Homo sapiens: one gene and its partner. The protein of the gene in region 2 purifies or fractionates together with the protein of the main gene of each other region. This does not show direct contact. Each region holds a gene or a part of one and is shown on either strand. Other genes may lie near its edges.

Region 1 (7,039 bases), on a different chromosome or scaffold from region 2:
TGGTGGGATTATAGGTGATTATCTTCTTCCTTATATCTTTTTTTCCCCCAAACTTTCTACAATGCATATGTATAATATTTACAGTTTAAAAATGCTTTAAATTTAGTTTGTAGCTTGCCCATGTTTAACCAGTGAGGTCTAAAATGCTAGCTATGTGATACGACTTAAGGCCCATAGGACTCAAAAATTGGAGTCTCCGTTAAAAAATGGTGTTTTCCAGTAATATGCAATGACGTGAAGATGAAAATGCTATTATATAAAGTAGTATATGGCATATAATTCCAATTTGTTAAAAAGTACACACATATATACTTATAAAGATACTAGAGGAAAACATAAAATGCCAACAGGTCAGTTGTTGGTGTAGGGCATGTGGGCGATTTACTTTCCCCTTTTTGTGTCCTTCTGTTTCCACTTATTTATTTATTTATTTTTAATTTTTAATTTTCTTTGAGATGGAGTCTCACTCTGTCACCCAGGCTGGAGTGCAGTGGCATGATCTCAGCTTACTGCAACATCTGCTTCCCGGCTTCAAGTAATTCTCCTGCCTCAGCCTCCCGAGTAGCTGGGATTACAGGTGCGCACCACAACGCCAGGCTAATTTTTGTATTTTTAGTAGAGATGAGGTTTCCTTATGTTGGCCAGGCTGGTCTCAAATTCCTGGCCTCAAGTGATCCACCCGCCTTGGCCTCCCAAAGTGCTGGGATTACAGGCATGAGCCACCACACCTGGCCCTGTTTCCAGTTATTTATAATGAACATTATCAGCATCTTTTATAATTTGAAAAAATTCAAAATTTAGTTTGAGAAGAAAAACATTGCCTCTATCTAGATATGGAATATCGGCTATCTTTTCAACTTGTCTTTCTCTCCCGTGCCTCCCAGCCATCCTTCTATTCCTCCTCCACTTGGTGCCATAGGTTCCTCTCGCCTTCCATTCCCATAGCTGCTCCTCTGTCCGCAGCTCATTTCCTCTTCTCCAGAACATAGCAATCTCTTAACCTAGTTTGTTTTCCTGCCGTCCCTTCTCTCTCTCTCTCTGACCTACTTCTGGAAGCACAAATGCTGGAATAATCCACGTGGATGACACTGCTCCCTTGCTTAACAGCCTGTGGCTCACCGTCCTAATGCTATTACTGGGAGTGTTCAGCCCAACCTTGTTACTGGCTGCCTTTACAGGGCTGGGGAGTGGGATGCAACAGTTACCAAGCCCCACCATGGGCCAGGCTCTGGAGGGCAGGCCCTTTTTTGTTAACTCACCTTTTGTGACAAAACCATGCAGCTTGACCATGCTAGCTTGGAAATAGGGTTCCAAAGTGTGTATTCATGCTACTTACAGACTCAGCTCTGCCGCTGACCTTGAACTTGTTTAATCCCCCTGCTTTTCCTCAGCTGTAACACAGATGTCCTGCCTCCCTCCCAGGGAGAGGCGAGGGCTGGGCACTCTGTGGCAGTTGGTAGCTGGTTTCCTTGCGAGCTGTTGTCCCTAAGGGATGCCCTGTACACCTTTGTTGCCCAGAGGTCTCGAACTGTGCTGACTGCCCCTTTGCTGTAAGAGCTCAGCCCAACTCATGAGCCCCCATTATCTCTCCAGCCCCAGGGTGGGCTCCACATGGCAGACGTTCCTCATCAGAAATGTCCCCAACTGTCACCTCCCCCATAAATGCATCCCTCTCAGATTTGACTCTGTTGAAATGTTCAGACCAGCGCCCCCAATTATCTTTATGTTCAGGGGTTCATTTCTTTGAATCTTGACGGGGCTCACTCTAGAACACCTACCAAATTGACAGGGCCACACTGGCTGCTCCCTTCCCCCTTAACCGCTTTGTCCTCATCTCCAGCAATGGCAACATAACCCCTCGGTCTCCCAAAGAAATCTAGGCCACAGCACCCACATCTCCCTCTCCTCAACTCCACATGCCAAATCCAGCTCCTTCTCTCTTTCCTAAGCATGGTCCAAGTCCATCCCACTACATTGCTTTGTGGGCCTAAAAGGAAGAGGCTGTAGCACAAACCAAGACTTAAGGAGTTTACTTGAGCCAAAGTGAGGACAGATTCCTGGAAGGCCCAGACCCAAGTAACCTTGGACATTATCTCTGTTTGGCCTTTGTTACAAGCAGTTTTTTTAAAAAGGCAAAAAAGAGGGACCGGGAGTGGGCTGATACAAAGTTGTTAGGAATTCTCATTAGTTTACAGAAATAACATTGATTAGCGACTGGTTATACATTGTTACACTACAGGGTGTGGGTTATAGTGTCCAGTGTGGCATTATTAGGTTATTTTTTAGCTACTTGTGCCAATGGCAAGCAGTTTCAAGAGATGAGGCCAGGTGTGGTGGCTCATGTCTGTAATCCCAGCACTTCGGGAGGCCGAGGTGGGTGGATAACTTGAGGTCAGGAGTTTGAGACCAGCCTGGCCAACATGGTGAAACCCTGCCTCTACTAAAAATACAAAAATTAGCCTGGCATGGTGTCTTATGCCTGTAATCCCAACTACTTGGGAGGCTGAGGCAGGAAAATCGCTTAAACCCAGGAGAACGAGGTTGCAGTGAGCCAAGATTGTGCCACTGCACTCCAGCCTGGGAGACAGAGAGATACTGTCCCAAATAATAATAATAATAATAATAATAATAATAATAATAATAATAAAAAGATGAATACACAGCTCAAAGTGGGGACTAGAACGTTATTGCTGTCTCATTTTCATGATTCTCTGGGCCTGATAATTTAAAAGGGCTTGCATTCCTCAGATAAAAGTTACTTTCTCACCTTTAGTCCATGACTTCCTCGCGTCTTGTCTGAACCGTTGCCATAGGCTCCTCTTATGCTTTCTTTGGCATCCCCAGCCTCACCCTGCCCCTACCCATGTCCCTCCTTCCCAAGGCAGCCACTGTTCCCGCTATTGCTGCCACTCAGGGCAGCATGACCTCGCTGGCACACTCCCTGTATTACCGACCTTGAGCTAAGTGCTTTACGCACTGACTCTTATCATTCTCTTGACAACCCCAGAAGGGTAGATTTTAAGATCTCCACTTGACAGATTAGCAAAACCAAGCTTCAGAGAGGTCAGCTAACTAGCCTCAGTGGTGGGCCGGGACCAGGCAGCCAGAGCCTGTCCCTGTAACCACTAGATGCTTGTGCTGCCTCCCTGCAGCGGCCTGGGCCTGTCTGTTGACTTCCTTGTGAACAGGCAGGGACCCTGGGTCTTTGGCTGTCAAATGTTTAATAAGTGAGTGCTTGCCTTGCACGGAACCCACACCACACTTACTCAGGCCCCTGGCTTTGGTTGGGGTCAGGCTCCATCATTTGCTGACCCTTATCTTTAAAAGTTCACCCTGAGGGGAGGAATGTTTTTAAAAGTTTTAAGTTATAGCATCCATTACAAAAACGTTTTCCATTGTGAAACCCCACAGAATTGATATTGTGCTGCAAGGATCAATCCTGCCTGACGCAGGTCTGCCAGCTGCCAAAAAACTGGTTAAACGTGTTAAGTTCAGAAAACCTATTGTCTGATGCTTTCTCACTGATTAAATGAGTTGTATTGACCCAGCATGTTGTAATAGTTGAAAGGTTATAAATTAACTGCATATACTCTATCCCACATGTAGACGTCTGAATAGCTACCACGGTACAAGCAAGAAGAGATTTTAGAAAGTTAAAACCATTGGCTTTTCTCACACCCCCTCCCTTCTTTTCACTTTTTTTCAGCTTTATCTTGGGTAAAAGATGTGTGATCAGACCTTTCTCGTTAATGTATTTGGCTCATGTGACAAATGTTTCAAACAACGAGCTCTGAGACCAGTTTTCAAGAAGTCTCAACAACTCAGCTACTGTTCAACATGTGCAGAAATTGTAAGTGCCACTTAAAAAAAATTCAGTTATCTGTCTTAAAACAGTCAAGCGAGGGTCCTGTGACAGATGAGATGCCATAGAATCAGCTTATATAACACACACTTTTCAGTATGCCTGGGCTTGGTGAGGCAGTATAGTACAGAGGTTCAGGGTGTGGACTCTGGTGTCTGACTGCCTGGGTCCAAATCCTATTGATGTTCCTAGTTATTGGTGTGCAAGGAGGTTCTCACCTCTCTCCTGAAGCCTGTTTTTCCCATCTGCAAATAGGAATGCTAATAGCACCTACATCATAAGAGTTTTATGATGATCAAATGATTTCATTTGATAACTTATTTTAAATAGTACCCAGCAAGGAAAGTACTCAATGAATGTTTTAGCTTCTATTATTTCTTAGGGCTAATACTTTTTTCTTCTGACTTCTACAAGTCTGCTTGGCAGGCAATCAAGCTAAAAGAGAAGCTGGCAAATAAACAGTCTAGGAGCATCTTTCCAAGGACCGGTCCCAGTGGTGTGTAGGTCCAGCTCTAATGAAGATGGAATCTCACAGGGCCTCAGTAGTGAGCAAAATTCAGCTCAGAAGTACTCCTTGGGCCTAAGCCTTCAACAAAGACTAGGAATGGAATACAAATCCTGGAATTTTTCAAAGTACACAAAATCAAGTCCTCACCAGAGGTGGCTGTGCACAGGCTTCAGATCTTGCAGCAAAAATGCCCACAGCATCACTGAAGCCCTAAGAATTAGTCCTATCTCTGAGAATTTGCAAAGCTGCGCTCAATAGTGCAGCTGAGCAGAGCCCCCACTTGGTGAAAAGTGGTAAAGCACTCCTCCTGAAAAGCCCAGTAGGAAATCCCCACACATTTAAAAAAACAACAACAAAATCCATAATACAACCAAAGAGAGGAAAGATGACTTTTACATTTTATCTAACTGAAAAAGAAAAGGCACTTTTTATCCTCCTGATTCCACTGTAACCCCTGACCATGATTACATTAAAAATTATTCCCTTAAAGCAAATAGCAAGTAAACAGCCCAGGGTGGCATAAAAAGGCTTTGATACAGCATAGCAATTTGGATATGTCTTCAGCCTAGGTGTAGTGGGCTTCTACCTGTAGTATATTTCTACAGTCTACGTTCTAACTTGGCCCTGCAAATTGTAGAACTGAGGACATTTAGTTCTTAAAAATAAACCTGCTTTCTGGGGGCCTTACCCCCCCCCCATTATTTATTAATCTAACTCTTCTGCTTTTTAAACAACTTCCTCTGCAGGTGGAATAAGCCCAAGAATCCCAGATTTTGAGTCCTCTGTGGCACACAGGTTCTCCCTAGCACAGGGGCCATGCCTGGAGATACTTTTCTAGGGAATAGTTGCCAGCTAGCGCTACTATTAGGTTGGGGCAAAAGTAATTGCGGTTTTTGCCATTGCTTTCAATTGAAGCAGTGGCACGATCTCGGCTCACTGCAACCTCTGACTCCAGGGTTCAAGTGATTCTCGTGCCTCAGCCTCCTGAGTAGCTGAGGTTACAGGCACAAACCACTATGCCTGGCTAATTTTTGTATTTTTAGTAGAGAGAGGGTTTCACCATGTTGGCCAGGCTGGTTTTGAACTCCTGACCTCAGGTGATACACTCACCTTGGCCTCCCAAAGTGTTGGGATTACAGGTGTGAACCACTGCGCCCGGCCCACACAATCTTACTTAATTCTCATAACAATTCTCATTGCTTTCAATTGAAAGCAATGGCAAAAACCACAATTACTTTAATACAATCTCTACTCTCTACTTGGGGGTTCCCAAATATTCAGACAGCATCATTCAGCTGAAGAGACATCCAGTGACTGACAGCTGGCCTTTCATCCAACTGTTTGGGATTATGTAGACACAGTCCCCATTGGGCCCTTTTTGTGAATAGGAGTGACCCTTTATCTCAACCACTGTGGAATGTAGCTGACCTCAACTTTTCTGATATCCAGCTTCCTCAGTGGGAGTTAACACCAAAATACAAGAAAGTACTTGGAAAACTGCCTAACCATTAAAAGTCTGATGGCCTCATCTCTAGATAGTTGACTCTCCAGGTTGGAGGCTGTTCGAGGTTTATTTTACACAAAGAACCCCCAGAAGAGGGCACACACCAGTGAGAAGTACCACGTGCCTCAGGTCTTCACAGCCAGGAGGACCTTGAACCACACACACATCCTGCAACGGTCCAAACAGAGCCAGCCTAAGGAGGTGATGAGATGAGGCTGCCTTGCCTGGGCCCCCTGAGATGGCCCTTGTGAGAAGAATCCCCCATGACCCAGTGTCTCATTTAAATTACCTCATGTGAACTGCTCAAGCGTATCAGGCAGCCTCAGTAATAATAACAGATGCATACTGTGTGCCACGCACTGCTCTCTCCGAATGCCATACAGAGTCTGAAGGAGGTGTTGTCCCCCATTCACAGATGAGGAGCCTGAGGCACCACAAGTAAATCCCTCAGGCCACAGAGCAGAGCCAGGATTTGCCCCCAGGCAGTCAGATCTAGATAGAGCCTGTGCTCTTAACCTTTTGCTTTACAAACTCTCAAACAGGTGTAATATTTTTGCTTTTATATATTCTTATCTTATACTTAATAATTGTATTTATATATTTATTCATTTATAAACATGTTTGTTATATGTTTATATTTTTAACATAGTTTATACAGATTTATATATTTTATATATTTTTTATACATCCATTTAATAAACTAGCATTAACTGAGCACCTACCATATGCAAGTACTATGCTAAATATCTAAATACTAAGGAACAGCGACAAGTAAACCTATTATTATACGGATGGGAACGGAAAAGAGAACTAGCAGTGAATAAGCATCTGCTATGTACGGAGAAGTCTGCTAAAGTCTTCACCCACACTATCTTACCTTTTTTTGTTTTGTTTTTGTTTTTGTTTTTGTTTTTTTTGAGTCTTGCTCTGTTGCCCAGGCTGGAGTGCAGTGGCACGATCTCGGCTCACTGCAACCTCTGATTCCAGGGTTCAAGCGATTCTCGTGCCTCAGCCTCCTGAGTAGCTGAGGTTACAGGCACGTACCACCACGCCCGACTAATTTTTGTATTTTTAGTAGAGAGAGGGTTTCATCATGTTGGCCAGGCTGGTTTCGAACTCCTGACCTCAGGTGATACACCCACCTTGGCCTCCCGAAGTGTTGGGA
Region 2 (4,644 bases):
TTGGGAGAGTAGAGTCATGGAGGTGGCATGGGGGCAGCACATGTTTTAGAGTCAGATTACTCCTGGTTGCTTATTGGCTCTGAGACCTCCGTAAGTTCCGTGTCTCTGAGCCTGTTTGCTCACCTGTAAATCAGGGATAATTCATAGGTAAGGTTGTGAGAATTAAATAACATCTGTAAAGTGTCTAATAGGTTCTCAATAAATGTTTATTCCTTTTCCTTTCTGCTGCATTTCAAGAGGTTTTGAAACAATGGAAAAGAGCAGAGGTAGTTAGCTTGATGAAGGGGAGAGCATGGTGGAAAGGATGTTCCAGGTTAGGTGAGGTGTCTGCTTGATGGAAGGAGCCAGTAACAAGGGTGACTTGGAGCTTTCAATTCCCTGAGAATGAATGCTGTGTTGATAAGGACTGTAGCAGGGTTGAGGAAGTACCCTTGGAAAGAAGAAAGAGGAGCACACCTCTGCCATCAGCAAAAAGGCCAGAGGAGGTGAGAGCTATGTGGAGGGAGAGAAAGGGAATCTGGCCTGTGCTTAACTGACGTGAGAGCCAGACTTTGAACTCCAGTGGCTTCATTTACCACTCATGTCATCTTGGGCCAACTGAGATCACTTTTCTAAGCCTCTGCTTCACTGGAATGTTGTGAGGCCTAAATGAGAAGCATAGAGCCTGGCCTGTGGACATGTTTTTAGTATTGGTGGGGAGCTGCACACCTGGTGGCCTCCGTTTCTCCCATGGACTAAGTCATCTGGGTGGGTGTGGTGCTTGAAAGCAGACACTTTGGGGATAGAGAGCCCCCCCAGGGTAGGGTTCTTGCCCAGCCGTATATCAGCTGTGAGACCTTGGGCAAGTGCTCTAGTTTCTCTGAACCTTGGTTTCTCCTTCTGTGTAAAATTAGGATACTAGGACCTATTCTTAAATGTAGAACCAAGAGGATTAAATGAGATAATGTGTGAAACACTCATCATGGTACCTGGTACATAGTAAGCACTCAATAAATAGACCCAAAGGGTAGGGGCCAGCAAATGTTGATTGAGAATGCATGGAAGCACTGCTGAGCAGCAGGAGGGCCCAGCTGGGGCCAGAGCTTTAAGCCAAAGGAACAAAAGTTAATTTTGAGAAACTCAGCATTAATCAGCAGTTGGGAGACATCTCCCAACCCCTTCAGCTCTGTGTGACATCCAAACCAAGGGTAGGCATGGGGGCTTAATTGTCAAGTGATGAGGACTTGGATAACTTGGTTTCTAATGCAGACCACAGTCCTGTGGATCTCTTCCAGAGGCAAGGGCCTTCTTGACCATCTGTAATGTGACCACTCTGCCTGCCAGCTTTGGCCTCAGGCACGTGGTGCCCCTGCTTCATGCACTGCTGTACCCACAGGACCGGGGCTTCTGCGTGGAGGTGAACACGGCCTTTGAGGACTTCGCCCACGTCATAAGCTTTGACAAGAGGGCTGCCGCACTGGACGCAGGCAACATCAAGCTGACCTTCAATAGTGTGAGGGGCTGGGCGGGGCGTGGGAAGTTCTCTAATTCATCTGTGTCTTGCTCCATTCCTTCTCACTCACTGTCCCACTGACTATATTCCCAATTCAGGGGATGGTGGTAGAAGCCCAGACCCTAACTTTCCACCTCCTAAGGTATGCCTGAGTGGGACCTGGCATCCACCCTCCTGGGTGACCCTGTTCCGTGTCCCTTCTTTCCTCAGCTGCTGGAGAAAGCAGAGGCACGGGAGAGGGAGCGGGAGAAGGAGGAGGCACGCAGGATGCGGCGCAGGGAAGCTGCCTTTCGAAGCATGCTGAGGCAGGCTGTGCCTGCTCTGGAGCTAGGCACTGCCTGGGAAGAGGTCAGGAGCGTAGCCTGGCCCCAAGCACCCCTCAAGCCTGAGGGCAGCGGTGCTTCACCACTGAGGGCCCACCCCAGTCACGTCACAGCCCTGGGCCAGCTCCAGTTCCCTTCCTTTCTCTGCCCCAGCCCTGCCCTGTGCTCATGGCGGTGTCCAGGCCAGGCTGAGTGGGGCCTAGTCTGATCAGCAGTGCTCTCCTCGTTCAAGGTCCGTGAGCGTTTTGTGTGTGACTCAGCCTTTGAGCAGATCACCCTGGAGTCGGAGCGGATCCGGCTCTTCCGGGAGTTCCTACAGGTGCTGGAGGTGAGGCAGGCTTGTCCTCTGGATCTGCCTCAGGCCCTTGAACTCATTAGACCAGTTCAACAGAGACCTCAGTGGCCTCCCTCTTACCCTTAGGGCACTCCTGGCCAGCTAAGGAAGGGGAGGCCTGAGGATCCCTGGGATAGGCAGAAGGCTCTAGTCTGAGAAAGGGAGGCAAAGCCAGATTTTAGGAAGTAGGATCCTTCCTGGGGCTAAGTCTGGTGCTGTCCTCACCCTTCTTCCTCTGCCTCTAGCAGACTGAATGCCAGCACCTCCACACCAAAGGCCGAAAGCATGGCAGGAAAGGCAAGAAGCACCATCACAAGCGTTCCCACTCACCCTCAGTGAGTAAGCGTGTAGAAGGGACATGGGGTGAAGCTGGGTTGTTTTGGGGAAATAAACACTTTGTTTTCCCCTTACAATATCTCCCTTGGAGGGAAGTTTGAGGATTCCTTTGGCCCTGGGTCCTCCTCCTCTCTCGAATTCCCAGACGAGGGCTTCTGGAGGGCAGAGAACCTCTGCACTGACATGTATCTGCTGATCTGCCCAGGGCTCTGAGTCAGAAGAAGAGGAGCTGCCCCCACCATCTCTCCGGCCCCCCAAGCGGAGGAGGCGGAACCCCTCAGAGTCAGGCTCTGAGCCCTCTTCCTCACTTGATTCAGTTGAAAGTGGGGGTGCTGCCCTTGGAGGACGGGGCTCCCCTTCCTCCCATCTTCTTGGAGCAGGTAAGCAGTTGCTGTGAGCGTAGAAGCTGGAGAACTGTTGTCCCAGACTGAGAGGATGCCCTCCACAAGCCCCAGCTCCTTTGAGGGTAGACTGGATTGGGAGGGCTGCACCTGTGGAAGTAGAAAGAACTTCCTCTACCTGCCCAAGCAAGAAGCTGGAGAAGGAAAACTGGACTTAGACTTCCTCAGAGCATGAGGTTCCTGCCTGTGAAGAATGAACAGAGGGGCTAGAACAAAGAAAAAGAGCCTGTCTTTCTCCTGTTGGGACTTAGTAGGGATTTTTCTATCTCTAGATCATGGCCTTCGGAAAGCCAAGAAACCAAAAAAGAAAACTAAGAAGAGAAGACACAAGTCGGTGAGTGAAGGAACTTCTACCTAAGCCCCTGCTATTTTGTGAGTTCTGTTCTACCTGCCTCCCAGGCTATCCACAGGAACTGAGGAGGTGGGCTCTGGACTCTTACAGAATAGTCCTGAGAGTGAGACAGACCCTGAGGAGAAAGCTGGCAAGGAGAGCGATGAGAAAGAACAAGAACAGGACAAGGACAGGGAGCTCCAACAGGCAGAGCTCCCTAACCGTTCCCCAGGCTTTGGAATCAAGAAGGAGAAGGTGAGGGGCAGGGGCCCTAGGCCAGTCAGCACGCTGGTCAAGCTTCCACGGCCCTTAGTGCAGGCTAAGGGTGAACTGTGCCTTTGCTCCAACAGACAGGCTGGGACACGTCAGAAAGTGAGCTGAGTGAGGGTGAGCTGGAGAGGCGGCGGCGGACACTCCTACAGCAGCTGGATGATCACCAGTGACCCAATGAGCTGTTCTCTGCCTCGGGTCTGTGTGAGGCCATGGCTCCTGGGCCACCCTCACCGTCTGCCTCAGACTTCTTCCTTAGTCTGGTCTGTGTCCACTTTTTCTAAAGTAACCCCACCCCCAGCACACCATTGTTGGCACCTCTCAAGGTTGCTCTTGGTGTTCAAGGGTCCCCTACTCCCTGGACTAGTGCAGTCCTTGCCCTCAGCCCCAGACCAGAGATGGGTGGTATATGCCATGTGGGGTGGGTGATGCCAGTAGATAAAAGTGTGAGAGAAGGGGTCTCCAGGGAAGAGTCACAGGCTGTTGGACGCAGCCTGGGTGGCAGAGGGCAGGGTCATCACCCTCTAGCATCAGTGCCTGCTCCTGCCTGCCCTGGCCCTGAGGCTCCACCACTTCTTCCTCCACCCAGGACCTAATGTACGTGTGTTTTGTTTTTTGTTTTTTAAATAACAATATTTATAACATGGCCAGTGACTCTTTTCCATGTGCTACTGGGGCAGGCTGGGGACTGGACACATGCCCAGCAGAGGGCACTAGTGTCTCATGGCAGGCCTGCTTCCCTTTGTGTGGCTAGAGCCCACCTAGCCGGTTCTCCTTTCCCCAGAGTTCTGATCTCATCTCCTCCAAAACAGATGCAGTGCCCCAAAGATTTCTTTTCTATCCCCATAGCCCAGGTCAGACTAAATGGCCACCCTAGCCCCCTAAGCTCAGAAAGAGGAGACAAAGTCAGGCCTGGTGCATCAAGCCTTTGTTGAGAGGGGGAGAGTCTGAGGTTTATGTACAGTAAGAGGAAAGGGAGGTGGTACATGTACAAAAAAGTGGGCCCCCACATTCCCTTCCAGGGGCAGAGGAGAAACGGGAAGGTAAGCAAATAGCCAAGACCACCATGCTCCTTGTCCCCTGCCAAAAAAAAAAAAAAAAAAAAAAAAACCGTAGCTGAGGAAAGAAGGTGAAGAGTTGGCACACCCTTTCTCCAG

Evidence for each region. Proteins that work in one complex are often made in the same cells at the same time.
Region 1: the proteins of PRPF40B (region 2) and GNB5 purify together in Homo sapiens (affinity purification with mass spectrometry; 2 studies listed by BioGRID and IntAct, with this or other methods). This does not show direct contact.

The regions. Positions count from the first base shown.
Region 1 is NC_000015.10:52,181,362-52,188,400, reverse strand, and holds part of GNB5 (guanine nucleotide-binding protein subunit beta-5), read left to right. Parts: intron 1-3,706; 5' UTR 3,707-3,724; coding exon 3,725-3,850; intron 3,851-7,039. UniProt on the Homo sapiens protein: Enhances GTPase-activating protein (GAP) activity of regulator of G protein signaling (RGS) proteins, such as RGS7 and RGS9, hence involved in the termination of the signaling initiated by the G protein coupled receptors (GPCRs) by accelerating the GTP hydrolysis on the G-alpha subunits, thereby promoting their inactivation.
Region 2 is NC_000012.12:49,640,533-49,645,176, forward strand, and holds the end of PRPF40B (pre-mRNA-processing factor 40 homolog B), read left to right. Parts: exon of another isoform or gene 1-1,375; coding exon 1,376-1,492; exon of another isoform or gene 1,493-1,702; coding exon 1,703-1,840; exon of another isoform or gene 1,841-2,047; coding exon 2,048-2,143; exon of another isoform or gene 2,144-2,394; coding exon of another isoform or gene 2,395-2,397; coding exon 2,398-2,484; coding exon of another isoform or gene 2,485-2,488; exon of another isoform or gene 2,489-2,690; coding exon 2,691-2,865; exon of another isoform or gene 2,866-3,158; coding exon 3,159-3,220; exon of another isoform or gene 3,221-3,328; coding exon 3,329-3,472; coding exon of another isoform or gene 3,473-3,567; coding exon 3,568-3,660; 3' UTR 3,661-4,133; downstream 4,134-4,644. UniProt on the Homo sapiens protein: May be involved in pre-mRNA splicing.